2 separate regions of the Homo sapiens genome follow, and region 2 is linked to region 1. A link means that fine-mapping ties the variant in region 1 to the expression of a gene that starts in the linked region. Tissue or cell type: blood mononuclear cells. Region 1 holds a variant in brackets; the other region holds the start of a gene. All regions are shown on one strand. Distances are from middle to middle. Region 1 overlaps RNPC3 (RNA binding region (RNP1, RRM) containing 3). Region 2 holds the start of RNPC3 (RNA binding region (RNP1, RRM) containing 3).

What was found. PIP is the estimated chance that this variant, and not a neighbour inherited with it, causes the effect.
Region 2: it holds the start of RNPC3, and the variant in region 1 is the best candidate, but not a certain one, in a credible set for the expression of RNPC3 in blood mononuclear cells (TOPMed, PIP 0.87).

The regions. Positions count from the first base shown.
Region 1 is chr1:103,549,758-103,558,410 of GRCh38, forward strand. It overlaps RNPC3 (RNA binding region (RNP1, RRM) containing 3), which reads left to right. Exons shown (of 15, transcript NM_017619.4): 13 at 1,184-1,316; 14 at 1,964-2,035; 15 at 5,277-5,482. The coding sequence ends at 2,023. It also overlaps a transcript of AMY2B not described here. Among named protein-coding and RNA genes, the nearest start is that of AMY2B, 18 kb to the right of the region's middle. RefSeq lists a silencer at 7,733-7,951. The variant C/T (reference allele first, on the strand shown) is at 5,306.
Region 2 is chr1:103,521,999-103,530,651 of GRCh38, forward strand. It overlaps RNPC3 (RNA binding region (RNP1, RRM) containing 3), which reads left to right and starts at 3,701. Exons shown (of 15, transcript NM_017619.4): 1 at 3,701-4,264; 2 at 5,697-5,744. The coding sequence starts at 4,073. It overlaps RNPC3-DT (RNPC3 divergent transcript), which reads right to left and starts at 3,510. Exons shown (of 4, transcript NR_168321.1): 1 at 3,398-3,510. It also overlaps the pseudogene RN7SKP285. RefSeq lists a silencer at 3,493-3,592 and an enhancer at 3,913-4,152.

The DNA of each region.
Region 1 (8,653 bases):
TTTGAAGAGTCACTCACTGTCTCTGGACATCACCTGTAAAATTATGGTTTTAATTAGATAATCATTGAGGTTCCTTTCTACTCCGAAGTTCTGTAATTGCTTATAATAATATAATGAACTCTAGGCCAGGTGTGGTGGTTCATGCCTGTAATCCTAGCACATTGGGAGGCCGAAGCGGGGGGGATCACTTGAGGTCAGGAGTTCAAGACCAGCCTGGCCTATATAGTGAAACCCCATCTCTACTAAAAATACAAAAATTAGCCAAGCATGGCGGTAGACGGCTGTAATCCCAGCTACCCGGGGGGCTGAGGCAGGAGAATCGCTTAAACCCAGGAGGTGGAGGTTGCACTGAGCCAAGATCACGCCACTGCACTCCAGCCTGGGCAACCAAGCAGGACTCTGTCTCAAAAATAATAATAATCATAATAATAATAATATAATGAATTCTATAATTGCTTATAACTGGCTGTTAATCCTTTCTATTTTTCCATTCTTGGTTATGTAGTAGTAGTTGTTTTTTTAATCACTTGAGCAGATAGTGCCAGATTGTAAGGAACTTAAAAAATTGAGATAAATAGTAATTTAAGAAGTTTGCAGCCAGTGCGGTGGTCCACGCCTGTAATCCCAGCACTTTGGGAGGCCGAGGCGGGCAGATCACGAGGTCACGAGGTCAGGAGATCGAGACCATCCTGACTAACACGGTGAAACCCCATCTCTACTAAAAATACAAAAAATTAGCCAGGCGTGGTGGCGGACACCTGGAGCCCCAGCTACTTGGGAAGCTGAGGTAGGAGAATGGCGTGAACCTGGGAGATGGAGCTTGCAGTGAGCGGAGATCATGCCACTGCACTCCAGCCTGGGTGACAGAGTGAGACTCTGTCTCAAAAAAAAAAAAAAAAAAAAGAAGTTTGGTTTTCTAGTTGCTAATAGTATAATTTTTAAATCACATACTTTTATGATAGTTGAGAATAGTTAAAAGTATATCTTAAACAAATACTACCTACTTGTAGAATCAATTTTAGTGCAGAACATGAAATATATTTTTAGAAAACTGAATAATTGACGTGCCTATCAAATAGTGTAGTCACTTTTATTTGAAATAGCAAAATGTTAGATTATTCAACACATTTTCATTCACATTGAAACTGACATTCTTTGAATCAAAACTGTTTCTTCCTTCTAGGTTTGATATACGTTTGATGAAAGAAGGTCGTATGAAAGGACAAGCTTTCATTGGACTTCCTAATGAAAAAGCAGCAGCAAAAGCCTTAAAGGAAGCTAATGGATATGTGCTTTTTGGAAAACCCATGGTGGTTGTATCCTTTAAATCCATCTATTTCAAAACTATATAATTTTTAGAAGGATATAACTGAAATTAATTTTCATGTTACCCTTTAGAAATTTCCACAATTGGCATTCTAGCAGTAGATATTCATTCGTTACAATTAAACCCACCTTACTGAGTCAGATGACAGTGTTATTTAGATTTTTAATAAAAGAGCTTCAGCAGCATGAGGTTGTTCAATTTCAGCCAAGTTTAAATGTTTCACTTATGCAGCTCAAAAGTACATAGGCATGCTAAGAGACTAGAGTATCCAGAAGTACATTTGGAGTCATAAAAGAACTAATTCATTTTATCATTTTATTGTAATTTATATTTCTACATGAGAATTTTAATAACTAGAGTATATCATTGATTAACCATCTTGCTTTTAGTAGTCAATGCAGTTTGCAAACTAGAAATCAGCAAGATAGGTAAAGAAGCAAAGGCCCAGGTATAAAAAATAATGACTGTAAAGGAAAAGTTAATTATTAATTTCCTCTCAAGTCATGAAGAGAGGCAGGAGGCACTCAAGGTAAATTAAAAAACCATACTCCCACCATACACTAGAAAGTTTTTGAGAATTATTTAGAAAAGATTACTTGCATATTCATGAAGGAAACCTTAATTTTAAATTATTAGCAGTTTGCTCGATCTGCTAGACCAAAACAAGATCCTAAGGAAGGAAAAAGAAAGTGTTAAAAATTAATAAAGGTAAGTGTGAATAAAACATAATAAAAAGACAAGACTAATTCTTGAGATAAAATTAAGAATAAAAGTTTGACAAGGTAGTAATTCAGGTATCTCTTTTTTTTTTTTTTTGAGGAAATACCTATCTGTGCAGTTAAGTCCCATTAAACGTCAAAACTATAACTACAGATTAAAACCCATTTATATGTGAAAATTAAGTTTGGAGAATGAATCTTATAAGGGGAGTGTGCCTGTTACTCTTTTTTTAACTTTTTCTGCCTATAGTAAAGCAATGGTTCTTAAACCCTAATATGTATCATATCACTTGGAGAGCCTAATAAAACACAGATTCGTAGGTTCCTTCCTTCCCTGAAAGAGTTGATTTGGTAGGTCTGATGTGGGGACCTAGGGAAACTGTTTATACCAGTTTTCCTTTTAATGAGGGGATTTCCAGGATGCTGGACATTTAGTGCTGAAATGGGGAATGTGTCTGGTAAGCCAAGACAGGTCGGTCACCCTTGTTGGCACCTGAAAATTTGCGAGATTAATGAGGTTTCAGGTAATGATGAGGCATCTTATCCAGAGACCACAGCTTGAAAACTCCTGGAATAAACACTTACAGATACATTTTCTAACTCTTAAAATTAACCTAAAGTAAATGTTAAAATAAAAGTTAAAAAAAAAAGTCAAACTGTCATTAAAAATAATTCTGGCTGAGCACGGTGGCTCACCCCTGTAATCTCAGCAATTTGGGAAGTGGAGGTGGGCGGATCACAAGGTCCAGAGATCAAGACCATCCTGGCCAACATGGTGAAACCGACTCTCTACTAAAAATACAAAAATTAGCTGGGTGTGGTGGCGCCTACCTGTAGTCCCAGCTACGTGGGCGGCTGAGGCAGGAGAATCGCCTGAACCTGCGAGGTGGAGGTTGCAGTGAGCCGAGATCAAGATCACGCCACTGCACTCCACACTGGCAACAGAGCAAGACTCCATCTCAAAAAAAAAAAAAATCTACAGTGCTGAGTATATAAAATTATTAACACATTTCACAACAATATGTGTTTGTGGAGTTAAATATTTTTTGTCTTTAAAACAGGTAATTTTAGTGCATACTTAATTTGATGATTAAATATGGTAGAATTAAGCATTTTAAATGTTAATGTTTGTTACATTGTTCAAGAAATAAGTAGAAATATATTCCTTTGTTTTTTATTTAAATTTTTGTTCCTCTGTAAACTAAAAGAACACGAAGTAATTGGTCACAATTACTGGTGTTTAACTGCCAAATATGGGTAAATAAGGGAAAATTTTGTTTAATATTTAGTCCTTCTGAGATGGCTTGAATATTTGAATTTTGTTGTACGTCTATACTGGGTAGTCACAAGTCTTATAAACACTTTAGAGGAAAGATGGATTTCAGTCTGTATTTTTAAACATCATTTATTTTAAATCTGGTGCTGAAAAATAAGAAAAAAATTAAACTGCATTCTGCTGTTCTTCTTTAGAAGCATTCCTGCGTAAATACTGCTGTAATACTGTCATGCAAAGTGTATCCTTTCTTGTCGTATCCTTTTTGGGGCAGTGTTTTTTTGTTTTTTTCCTAGAAATGTTTGTCCTTCCCCCACCTGTTGATCCAGGTTAAGGAATACTTTTTTACACTTTATTCAAATGAAATATTTCTAAAATTATTTGTATAGACTGAACAGATCTTTTATGTGTTTTTAGATTTGTTGTTGAATTTTCTGTGCTGTCCTTTATATAATTTTTTGAGGGAAAGTTAGTGAATCAGGTCAACTTACTTAGAGAATGTGTTCATTTACTTTAACCCAGAATACAGTCTTGTTTCTTCTATTTGTATGTTTCCTAAACCTAATTCAATAACATATGCTTTCTGTTGTGTAATATATCTGGTTTAGGTATTTATAATGTGTTTAAAATTTGGGCAAAGGAAATGTTTTTCTTTTAAAAAGTACTTACATTGAAAATTAAGATGTCTGGATTACTATGTAAATTCTAGAGAGTAGCAGACCTCTCATCTGAAGTCTTAGTGAATCTCTTTTGACATAGATAGCAATAGAAGTATCTTTCTTCTTTCCCCTTTCTTTTTCTAAACAAGAGAAGAAAAGCGTAATAGAGGGGAGAACACATAATGCCCACTAAGGGTAGTGCATTAAGGAAAAACAGTCTTGGCAGGTATATAGGAATAGTGGTTTCCAGACTGGTTGATGACCGTAATCACCAAGAACAGTGGTTCTCAGTCTTGGCTGCACATTGCAGTGATCTGGAACTTAAATACTAATTTTAAAAGGGTGCAGTGGCTCATACCTGTAATCCCAGCACTTTGCAAGTCCGAGATGGGAGAATCACTTGAGCCCAGGAGTTTGAGACCAGCCTGGGCAATGTAGGGAGACCCTGTCCCTACAAAAAATACAAAAATTAGCCAAGTGTGGTGGCTTGCACCTCTGGTCTCAGCTACTTGGGATGCTAAGGCAGGAGGATTACTTGAGCCCCAGAGGTTGAGGTTGCAGTGAACCATGATCACACCACTGCATTCTAGCCTGGGTGACAGAGTGAGACCCTCTCCCTCCTAAAAAAATCCTTAAGAAATATATTGATGCTTGGTTCCTTTGGTCAGAATTTTGATTTAAGGTGTTGGGAGTGTAGCACAGATGTTGGAATAAACCTCTCAAACTGATTTTAATATACAAACAAGGTCGAGAACCACCAAGGAAGAGTTTTTATGCATAAAGATTCCTGTACTCTACCCTAGAACTAATACATCTGAATCTCTGGGAATGGAGTATAACAATCAGATTTGAAAAGGTTTCTTTAGTAATTTTAAGGACTGACCAGTTTAGACACTGCTTTGTTAGAGTAAAATGATTAGGTACCTAGTATCAACCTAGCCATCCAACCTTATATTAATAACTAGGAAAATAAAGGGTTGGAGCCTCTGTGTTTCTTTGTTGAAAAATCTGCTACTATTATTAGATCTGTGAAAACAATTGAAAATTCGGTTATTATCACCTTAAAAGTACAAAACCTATAGATTTTGAAAATGTAATTATTTTTCTGTAGGCATAGTTAAAAAGATTTTGTAAATGTTATAAATCAGTTTCTTTATAAGCGGTTTATTTAGATAAATTTTGTTATACTGACATGATTCACTAATTTTCTAAATATAAATGGTTCAGCTCTTAGTTATTTTTAAACTAATGACCTGTGTTATACTTCCTATTTTTAATGGGCTTTTATGATGTTTTAGGTTTTTTTGAATCCCGTGTCCTTCAAGTG[C/T]TTTCTAACTTTGAGAGGAAGAAATTGACCACCTGGACTATGGAACTGTGCGTAACAGCTTTGAAAGTGTATTTAAAAATTAAATCTATATGCCTTTAAATCAGTGAATTGGAAACATATTACATGTATTTTAATGATTTTCCTCAAATATAATAAATTGTTTCCTTTCCAATAAAATAGTGTTTGTATTTTTTCTTTATCTGGTTTAACACATCTAGGAAAACATAATATTATAAAAAATATATATAATTTGTAATATAATTTTTTTATGATTACAAATACTGCCTTTTAAAAATTCTTACCTGGATACCAAAGCACTTTCACATTTTTTTTATTGTAATCTTGTTTTTTGTAATTATTTTATATTTGTCTGGCTTTGAGTTTTACTGGGCTTTTGGTTTTTTGGAAATGGGGGTTTATCCCAATTTAGAAATTTGTATCCTTGCTGTAATACAGTCTTCCATTTTTGTTCCCCCAAATCTTTCATCTGTCAGAACGTCACTCAAAGGTGAAAATATTTCCCACATAAAATTATTCTGTTCCTTTAATGAAATGAGTTTCAGCTGTATATACGTAGGAAAACATTCTTTTTTGTCAACTTGACGTTGACAAACTTGGTGGATGTCAGGAGTAAGGGTATTCAAGAGAATTTTGAAGAAGAATTTAATATAGTGAGTATCGAAGACAACTCTTAAAGAGTCTTGCGTTCAAGGGGTTGTGAGAAATGGGTTGTTAATGGAGGGCAATGTAGTATCAAAAAGCTGTTTAAGATTGATGATATAGCAGGTTTGTATGCTAATCAGACTGATTCAGTAGAGAGAAAAAACATAATGCCGGAAAGAGAGGGATATTGCTGAAGCCATAGACCTGGTATACAAATAGAAGGGTTCGTTTTAAAGATAGGCACACAAACAGCTCATTAGTAACGGTAGGATGAAGGGCAGATTATGGAGTTCTAGATGTCGGTAGTTCAGTAAATAGGAGCATGTCAAATTTTTGTTATATTTTCTCAGAGAAATAGGAAACAAGGTCATAAAGAGGGAGGAAGTCATGAAGGATTAAGGAAGGAAAAGGAGATGTAAAATGGGTATCCAGGAATGTAGGAAAGTAAACATACTCTTAGGCAATCTGTGGTTTATTTAAGTGGTATCAGTCAATGTGGTTTTGTGTTTTTCTCCAGTTGAGTTCAGCATAGGTGCTATCACTGAAAAAGTACAGAATTCAATTTAACTAAAGTTGAGATTTCCCTAGGTGAATAAGACAGTGATGAGATGTTGTTACATTTAAGAGAAAGATAATAAAAGAGAGATATGGAAAGTAATCTGGGTTAAGGAGTGAAGTGAGAAAATAAAGAAGGTTGAGACAGTGGAAAATGGTATCATCAATTGTAGATTGCAGTGTGGTTGAAGATGCATTGGAGTTCTTGAGGTACAAACTAGAAATTTGGGAGATTTAAATAAGAGTGGGGTGGCTGAAATTGAAATTAGAGTATAATAATATATAATAGTACTAAGTATAGTATACTAAGTATAGTATAATAGTACTAAGTATAGTATACTAAGTATAGTATAATAGTACTAAGTATATAGTACTTAGTGATTATAAGTTTTAGGATGTGAGGATGGGAGTAGCATAGAGGCAAGGTGATGGAAGGAGATGAATTCAAGAAATTGGGAACCTAGGAGATTGAAAGCATTATCTAAATGAATTTTGAAATCTCAACAAGAACTGTGCTGAGTGCTTTTTGTAATTATTTTATCTTTACTACCCTGTGAGAAGACAGCACTTCCTTTTGTGAGTAATGGAAAGCTCTTTAATGTGTCAACTGTAAGATACTTTATTACATTTAATTATCTTTAGTAATTCATGCTAACAAATAATGACCTCAGTAGGATTATTCAGTAGATATGTGAGCTAACCCCCTGTGTCAGACACCTAAGAGATACAACTGATGATTTTCAAGAAGAATAGAGTTCTCATCCCAAGTACTTAAGCTGCAAAATGTCCCACCCTATATTTTCTGAAAACAAACGGTATATAGAGCGTCCATTTAAAAGCTAATAGGAAATCTTAAAGCGTGCGCGCGCGCACACACACACACACACACACATACATACATACATACATACACACAAAACATTGAATAAGCATCAGGAAATATATACCCTGTACCCAACATGCACAAGGTCTAAGCAATGAAGAAAAAGCCAGGATATCAAGTAAGACTGGAACATCTGTGACTAATATATAAAGACTTGAGGTGGTTGTATCTATTTAAAAGGTTATCAATTAGAAATTAAGAAAGAGGCCAGGTGCAGTGGCTCACGGCTGTAATCCCAGCACTTTGGGAGGCCAACGCAGGTGGATCAACGTGAGGTCAGGATTTTGAGACCAGCCTGGCCAACACGATGAGACCTCGTCTCTACTAAAAATACAAAAAAAATTGCTGGGCATGGTGGCTCATGCCTGTGGTCCCAGCTACTCGGGAGGCTGAGGCAGGAGAATCATTTGAACCCGAAGGTGGAGGTTGCAGTGAGCCGAGATTGGGCCACTGCACTCCAGCTTCAGTGATGGAGTTAGATTAAAAAAAAAAAAAGTATTTTACATAAGAAATTTTAATTTTTTGTAAATTATAAAATAGCACTTAATATGGTATTTGTATACCGTGATCTTTGAATATCCAAAATTTAAGAAGATGTGAGCAGTTTTATGAAACTTTTCAAAGCTTAGAAAAAGGTAACTACATAAAATTCCATTATATGTTATTTATGGGAACATTAGATGAAGTAAGTCATAAAAACATGCATAGAAATGATCATACAAACTTGGAAGAAATTGAATGTCTTGCTATCGAAGGAAAGGATGGAGGTGAGAAGCTCTATATATTGTATTTTTCTTTATATATTTAAACTCGCATTTCTTATTTTTCAAATGTTCACTCCAATGAAAATTCTTTTATTTTTCCTGTTAGTTTTTATTTCTGATCTCATATATGCAATATACTATTGTTCATAAATATTAGTGATCCGCCCTGCAAATGAAATACTCCCATCCTGTTGAATTTGGGAATGTCCATGTGATTTGTTTTGGCTGTGAAATGTGAGCAGAAAGATTGTTTTACTTTGGGGAGTTCCCGATTGCTAAAGCATGTGTCAAAATGAAGTTTTTGTGACATTACAAAGGGACTAATAAGAGTGCCTTTGTTGATCCTAGTTGAACATGAGAAACTTGGTTATTGTAAGCCACTGAAAAATTTTAGTTTCTTTTATTACTGCAGAATAACCTATTCTGTCCTGATTGATACAGCCACAACATTTCCTTAAGCTCTTTGATTTTCATATTTCCATT
Region 2 (8,653 bases), 28 kb before region 1:
GAAGATAGCGTCTCAACGAAGAAGTGGTCAAGTATGCCAAGCATTGCTGAGAAGCTAAAATGAGAACTGAAAAGGCCTATTAGATTTAGTAACTGGGAGGTAACTAGTGACCCTAAGAAGAACTACCTTGTGGACTGATGGGATCAGAAGTCAGGAGCACACTTTGGAGTGAATGGGAGATGAAGAAATAAGAATAATTATGTCTCTCTCTTTAGAAGCTTGGCTATGAAGGGTGAGGGGAATGCTTTTGGCTAGAAGCCAGGACAAATATTGGGATCAACCCTTCTCCCTATTGTAGTTCTCCAAAGCATGCCAGAGATAGGACCCAGCAGTTTTCCTGTCTTCATGCGGAAAAATGGGGAGTTTGGGGGTAAAAGGGAAGATGTAATAGGGAAGTACAAGTAGCCATGTGGTCAAGTGAGGAAAACTAGGGACATAAACCAAAGGAAGCAAAAAAGGTAATTCTGTCTGAGAAGGTACTCAGTAACATGGAGGAACTGATGAAGATGAAAATTAACCCAAGAAAACCACCACATTAGCGGGGACCTCCATCAACACACAAAACCCCTGAGAATAAGAATGAGATAAAGAACCAACAATTGCTCAGTGAAGTCAGACACTCCCAAGCTCCACTACTTTTCCCGCCTCCCATTCCCCAACATAGAAAATCAAGACTGAAAATGAGTTAAATTCACAGTTCTCAAACTGTGCTAAGGTGCCCCAGGTACCCTTGCCACCTTATAGAGGTACTATAGGATATTTTAAATATTTGAGGGAAACATAGCAATACTCACTGTTTACCAGACACTACCTGAACTACCAGCTTGAGATGTTTCTCAATTTGAACATTAGATACTGTTTAATTCCTTTTAAGAATGTCATATATTTGAAAAGCTGGGTTTTTGGCTGTTGCTCTCATATAAAACAAGTGCTTCCTGGAAAACCAGAGTGGAATAGGAAATAAGGTGGCATCAAGGGGTGCTAGAAAAAACTGCTGGGACAATAAAGCTACCAATAACTGAAAAAGTTTGGCAACTTCTGGGCTAGACAAAGAGGAGGGAATGAGAAAGGTACTTCTCAGATACGACCACACATACCTACACTCAGACACAGAAAAGATTAGAGTGTATTACATATTCCTGCAATCCTTTAGGTCAAGCCTGATATGAGGGGAGTGTAAGAAGAGACACCTTAATGGAGTTTGGACTTGACATCTCTAACCAACTGTACTGATAGCAACTGAAAGTGACTAGAAAATTATGACCTCTACCTGAGATATTGTCAAGGAAAGGATAAGGTAGATTTCATTGAGTACAACTAAAAGCAATTAAGTAGAGAGAAAATAAAATTCTGTCATGTAACTATTCCACTCAGTCATGATACCTGAATTACAGTAGATAATGACCATTAAACTCTGCCTGATAGCCCCTGTAGTAATTCCTAACCGTAGGAGGCAGTGGTAAATATAAAAGTGAATTCCTTCATGCATTCATTCATTGAATAGATATTTACAGAATGTGCACTATGTCTGGAACATTTTACTAAACATAAGAGTCACAGGGAGGATGTGACGGTCATTTTGCATGACACCTGTCACCAACTGATCCCAACAGTTGATTTGGCTGATCTGGCTAACTAGCTGGGTTCCCCTTCCTTCCTAACTGCCCCATATATGTCTCTTCCAAAGCTGCCCACTCGGCTGAGGAGGATGACTTACCCCCATAAAGGAGGATGATTTTTCTGTAAGGGCATACGTGTAGCAGTGCTCCCTTGCTAGAAGCTCCAAACAAGTCTTCAAAGAACACACACAAAAAAGCCGCTGAAGGATAGTGTTTAAAATAGCATGACCACTCCAATCGGTTTATAACACTACCCTATTTTTTCCAAAGCACTTATTATTCTCTGAAAAGAACTTTATTTACATATTTATTCTGTCTTGATTTTAGAAAGTAAGCATTGAGAGGGCAGGAATTGATTGTCTTCTTCTTCTTCCTTGCCTCAACTTCTCAACATCTGCATGTCCCATGACTCCATTATGGGCACAATTCTATCTATACCCTTTGTCATTCTTCAGATATAAATACCATATAGGTTGATGCCATACCTCGTGGTAACCTTTCCCAAGAATGCCAAACACACACATTCAACTTCCTACTTGAAACAGGGATACTGAATAGATACCTTAAACTTAATATATGTTCCTCTATTCCCAATGTCCCACTACAGTTTCTAACCTAGCTATACTTGGTCAATCTTCTCACATTCAGTAAATGGCATCATCATCTACAGATGGATAATATCTAGCTTAAGCCAAAAATCCAGAATTTATCCTTGCTTACTATTCTTCATCTGCAAGTTCCTATCAACTACTTCTAAAACGTATCTCAATTCCAGTTCCTTCTCTACATGTCCACTTTCACCAAACTATTATGGTAGTGTTTTTCTCCAGACTTCTACAGTAGTCCAACTGGTCTTTCTGCTTCTGTTTTTTGCATTGCAACCGGAGAAATTTTCATACCTAAACTTTGATTCTCTCCCCTCAACACACACCTACTTAAAGAATTTGTCAGTTTCTAAATGTTCCTCAAATAAAAAGGGCTCCTAACAAATCTACAGCGTCTACGTGGTCTGGCTCTACCTATCTGATATTTTGGTGGGTGTGTGGGGAAGGTTCTTCTCATGTTTGTCTTCTAGTTTTCATTAATATCTGTCTCTCTCCTTTTCCCCAACCAATGCGGGATGACAGCAGATTGCTGGTATACTGCTTACTGCTGTATCTCTAACATTTATTTAAGTGGCAAAAAGAACTGTAAGAGGAACTCTGGTTCTCCAGACTGTAGCAGCTACATCTAGCATAAAACCTCTCTTTAGAATCCTCAAGGCCCTCTCTGTATGGGGTGAGGGGTACATTCCTGACCCTCCGGGGATGATCCCTGCCTCACTCCATTCAGAATCTAGGCAGAACAGTGGATTAGAATGTAGACCCCCAGTCAGAACACCAAGGGTCAAAACTTAGTTCTTCCACTTTCTAGCTGTGTGATTTAACCTCTTTGTACATCAGTGTCCTCAGCTGTAAAATAGGGAGAAAAGTACCTACACCTACACACACACACACATACACACACACACACACACACACCCCTACACACACACACATACACACACATGCAATAATTTATTTATTAGGTTACCTCTCCCTAGAGGCTGCCATTTCTGCGAAATGAACCCTGGCAGGGGCCTATCCGTCTGCTAAATGCCTACTGATTCAAGAAAAAAGTCTGAACTCTCAACGTTTTGCCCCTTAAACTGAGTTCTCCTCCCTACAATGGTGTCTAATGAGTTGACAGAATAACTGGCTAGCTTTATATTTTACCATCTAAATACTGTAAGAACATACCCGGTATTTCCACACCCAAGTTCTCCTCCTTGCTATTCAGGCCAATTCACTTTCCCAAGGCCAGGGATTAAGAGCCGCACGGTCAGCTCCAGATAGCGCTCGCCGCCGTGCGCCCCGCCCCGCCGTGCGCCCCGCCCCGCCGTGCGCCCCGCCCCGCCGTGCGCCCCGCCCCGCCGTGCGCCCCGCCCCGCCGTGCGCCCCGCCCCGCCGTGCGCCCCGCCCCGCCGTGCGCCCCGCCCCGCCGTGCGCCCCGCCCCGCCGTGCGCCCCGCCCCGCCCTGTGACGGTCCCAGCCCGCACATGCGCAGTCGTGAGTCCTCTTGTCCTTGAGCGTCAACCTTCTTTCCCTGAAGTGGCTGGGGTTCCTGTTTCCTTCTTTGATTGACAACTTGTGTTAACCCTCGCACATCTCTGGGCCAATTTTTGCTTGTAAGTCTTTCCGGAGACCCCTGGAATTTAAATCATTAGCACCGCGCCCTTCCCCGAAGAGTCTTCGAAGGGTTGCCGCTTTTCGGTGGCGCAGTTCTCGCGAGAAGGTGACTTTCTTTCTCGGTATTTCCTGGTTTCCAGAATCCTTAGCGCGAGGCGGAAAAAATATTTCTCCCAGCTTGTGTTGATGCCGCGATTTTGACTGAGACTTCTTCCCACGATTTCTGTTTTTGCTTCTCCAAGGAAAATGGCAGCTCCCGAGCAGCCGCTTGCGATATCAAGGGGATGCACGAGCTCCTCCTCGCTTTCCCCGCCTCGGGGCGACCGAACCCTTCTGGTCAGGCACCTGCCGGCTGAGCTTACTGCTGAGGAGAAAGAGGACTTGCTGAAGTACTTCGGGGCTCAGTCTGTGCGGGTCCTGTCAGATAAGGGGCGACTGGTAAGGGCGCGCCCCTCCGGAGTCTCCCGGGAAGGCATTTGGGAAGTGACCGGGGAGGGGGAGCGCTGACAAGAGTAAAATGGAAACGAGTGGGGAAGATGGACTTGTGTGATGAGAGCTCCCCCATCCTACCTCTTTTTTATCAAAATATCTGCTCTGCGAAGTGGAGTTTTAATCGGCTCGAGTCTGGATTAGTCATAGCACTGCAGAAAAGGGCAAGTGAGAACGACAAAGCAGAAGAATGGAAATTAGCTTAGTTATATTGAGTTTTCGGATCCATCCTGAGAGCCTCACAACTTTTTTGAATTTGGGGTTATTTCTCCTGGACTCAAGAGTATTCTTACAAATGTGCATCAAGGGATTTTTTAAAGTCCTACTTCATTTATAAGCCAATGTTAAATCGTTCATTAAAATAGAGGAGAAGCTACATTGGTGACTTGCGTAAATTAAATGCAGAATTTCAACTAGAAAAAGAGGCTTTTCATAAAAATTTCCCGATGACATCTTTTAGGGAACAATTTTTTAGGGCTGTTAAGAGTACCTGTGTAGGAATTTACACAATTACTTTGTTTTGCTTTATATCCAAAGATATTTTAGATTTCTCTTCATTAAAATAGGAATAGCGATGGTGCAAGACTCAGTGGTTTTAAAGTTTCCCTAGGTGATTTTAATGTTAATGTGCAGCCCAAGTTGAGAGTTACTGAATTAGAAGAAAGACCAATTTTGATCAGTTTAAATGTCACTTATGCCTGCAAATTAAAAAAAAAAAATTATATATGGCTCAATTTAAGTACATCAGGTCATCGTGTATCAGATTAGACAAAATTAGAATGTGCGATATAATTATTAAAGTAACTTTTAATAAGCATTGACCAGAGCTCTTCCTTAGCATAGTGATTCTTTTACTGTTGATTTGTGTTTCTTTTCTGATGGTTTTTAAAATCCGTATAATTTATGTTTAAAAATAGACTTCTCCCATTGAACATTATTACAAAGATAAAGCACAAAGGAAATATGCACCTTGAAGAACGATTTCTCTGTTGGTGAATGTTTTTAAACTACGCATTGTTATGTATAGAGGAAAGTTTAAAATCTTTAGATCTGTCATAAATGAAGGAAATAAATTTTTAGTTGGTTAAAAGTGACCCTCTGTGTAGAACAGGTCTTTAAACTTTTGGTCTTTTGAACTATTTGCATGTGTAAAACGTGTGTCTTTATATGATAGAGGTTGCATAGCTTTCATCTCAAGTCTGACTCAAAAAGTATTGAAAACCACTGGACTGAAATTAGTAATCAGTTAAATGGTCTTGAGTTTTCATCCTTTCCCGTGATTTTATTAACATGTCACATTACTCCACTGGTAAAAAGTCAGATTTCTTTGTGAGAAACTGAAATTATATTGGAAGTAATTTGTACCTTAACTCTGTTTCAGAAACATACAGCTTTTGCCACATTCCCTAATGAAAAAGCAGCTATAAAGGTATGACTTTTTCTTGACGATTAAAGTTGTCAACAGGATCCTCTTATACAATCTTGGTTCAGATAATGTTTAACTGTGGTTTTTAAGAAGCAAAAGCGTTTGTATTCCAACAGTTTCCCCAACAGACTACATTTGATTTGTCAGTTGGCAGATCTTGCCCAGTCCTTTAGTAGATTATCTATAAAGAAAAACTAACTGCGTATGTAATTAAAATAACAATTTCTAAATGATTTAGATTGATAAATATCTCTGTGACTGTTACAAGGTAAGATGTTTCAAGTGTTAAAAGGAGAATATACATTTCTTTATAATGCCAGGGAATCATTCACAGGAGGTGATCTTTTAGCTAGAAGTCTAATGATTAATTGGATTTTTTCAGAAGGAAACAAGTGGAGATGGGCCTTCTGGGCTTGCAGAACACCAAATAAAGCTGTGAGACATTGGAAGTTATAAGTGGAGCAGGAGCTAAGGGTTGAGATGGAAATGGAACTTGAAAAATAGATTTGAGTCTGGGAGAGAGGTATTGAGTTTGGTTTAGTAGGTGGACACTTGATACTTTTGAGCTGGCTCATAATATGATCAGGCCTGTTAAAGATATCTGGTATAGTTCATATCATGGATTGGATGTGCAGAATTATTAGAGGTAGGAGACCAAATGGAAGGCTGTTATAATGGCCAAGGCAAGAATAACTATCTGAAGAAGACAGTAAGAAGACAAAGGGGGAAGTAAATATATATTCAATAGAGATTGAGTTTGTAGGTTTTATAATATAGGGGTTGAGAGAGAATAGTTCAGGATATTTAGATTGAGGATTGAGTTATTTGGGTTGTTATATTAGCTGACATGAGGATCCAGAGGATGTTTGCAAAGGCATAGGATGAATTCACTTGTCATCTGTTAACTTGGAGGGGTCATTGGGCTACTTTTATGGAAATATTTAAAAATATTAATGAGAGCTGAGGCAAGGTGAAGAATGGAAAGATTCTTCAACCATGTGAATAGATATGTTTGCCCAAAGGATAATAAGCTAGGAGAGAAGAATGGGAAGGAGCAGTTAAAGTAGGAGAACTAGAAAGGAAATTATCACTGATGCAAAGAGAAGTGTGTTTTAAGAAGATGAAATCCTGTGATGATGCAAAATGAGGAATGAACACATCTATTAAAGTCTTTTTGCCATGAAACAATAGAAATGACCCAAATTCTCATCGGTAAAAGGAAGGGAAGCCTTAAATCACATTATATCCATATACTGGACTGCAACTGTCTGAGAATGATGTCAAATGGTATGTGTTAATATGGAATGATAGCCCAGATAGAGTACATGAATAAAGTTGTGAAACATTATATATGATGTAACCTCAGATTTTTTGAAACTAATAGTATACATGTTAGCATATACACAGAAAAAATATGGCAGAACTATACACCAAAATGTTAAAAACATCTTTCTCTGAGAGTAGGATTACAGAGGGCTTTCATATTATATTAATATGTACTTTTATAATGGTAGGTAATTTTTTTTCAGAAAAAAAGTATTTTTAAAAATATATCATAATACATTGTAAATAAAGTATGGTAATGAAAAACGCATTGTTTTAGGGTCAAGAATAACTTGGAGGAGAGGACATGGAGCCAGTCATTGTCTTTGGAAATGTCTGTAGTGAAAGGAAGCAGTAAGAGGTTAACGGCAATATTGATAGGGCTTTTAGGCTAGAGAGCATTTGGCCTAATTGGAAAGTGATAGATTAAGAAAACAAAGGGAGAAATGTTCAAGAATAGAGTAAGTAGCCGAGTCAGGTAGGAGGAGTTAACATTAAAAATGAAAAACCATAAATCTTTGAAAATAAGAACATATGTGATACCCATTTGAGAAGAAGAAAGTTGGAGTAAGTCAGGTTAGATGACCTTCATTTCAGATAATCAAGGCTTCACTGATAATAAAGAGGTCTAAAGTTCATTTAGGGTCTTGAAAATTATTGAAACATTTTAAAATTAACTTTGTATGATGATGTAAGGCAGGGATCCTCAAACCCTGGGACACAGACTGGTACCCAGCCACGGCCTGGTACCTAACCACCACCTGTTAGAACCTGGGCCGCACAGCAGGAGGTGACTGGCAGGCTGAGGAAGCTTTATCTCTATTCAGGGCGACTCCGCCTGGCTGCCTGAGCTCCACCTCCAGTCAGATCAGCAGTGCCTTGGCCCCTGTTGTGAACTGCACATGCAAGGGATCTAGGTTGCGCTCTCAATGAGAATCTGACTAATGCCTTATGATCCGAGATGAATCAGTTTCATCTCGAAACCATCTTCTCCCCACCCCCCACCCCAGCCTGTGGAAAAATTGTCTTGCACAAAACCGGTCTCTGGTTAAGGCTTGTACTTTCATGTGTTCAAAAATATTAAGTACCTACTATGTGCTAGATGCTGATTTAGGTTTTGGGATTATATGTGAAGACAAAGATGATTATAGTTCATATTCTCAAAAGGGGAGACAGACAATAAATAATAAACTTTAATATTTTAGAAGATGATAAATGCTATGGAAAAAGGACAAGTAGAGCAATAAGATCAGGAGTGCTAAGTGGGGAGAGGTCAGGCTGTAGTTAGGGTTATATTTGAACAACAATTTGAAGGATGCGAAGGGAGTTAGCTAATGAAATTTCTGGGAGAAGTACCTTTGAATTAGAGGAACAGCTGGAACAGGGGCTCTAGGATGTGACCATGCCTGTCACGTTGTTCAAGGAAGCCACTGTGACTGGAGCAGACATAGTGGGAGTGATCTGTGGGAGCAGGAGTGGGAGTGATCATTGGATTTGAAGTCAGAGAAGTCATAGAATCTATATTATGTAGATTATAGTAAGGAACTTAGATTGCTGTCAGTAAAATAGGGAGCCATTGGAGCAAGGGG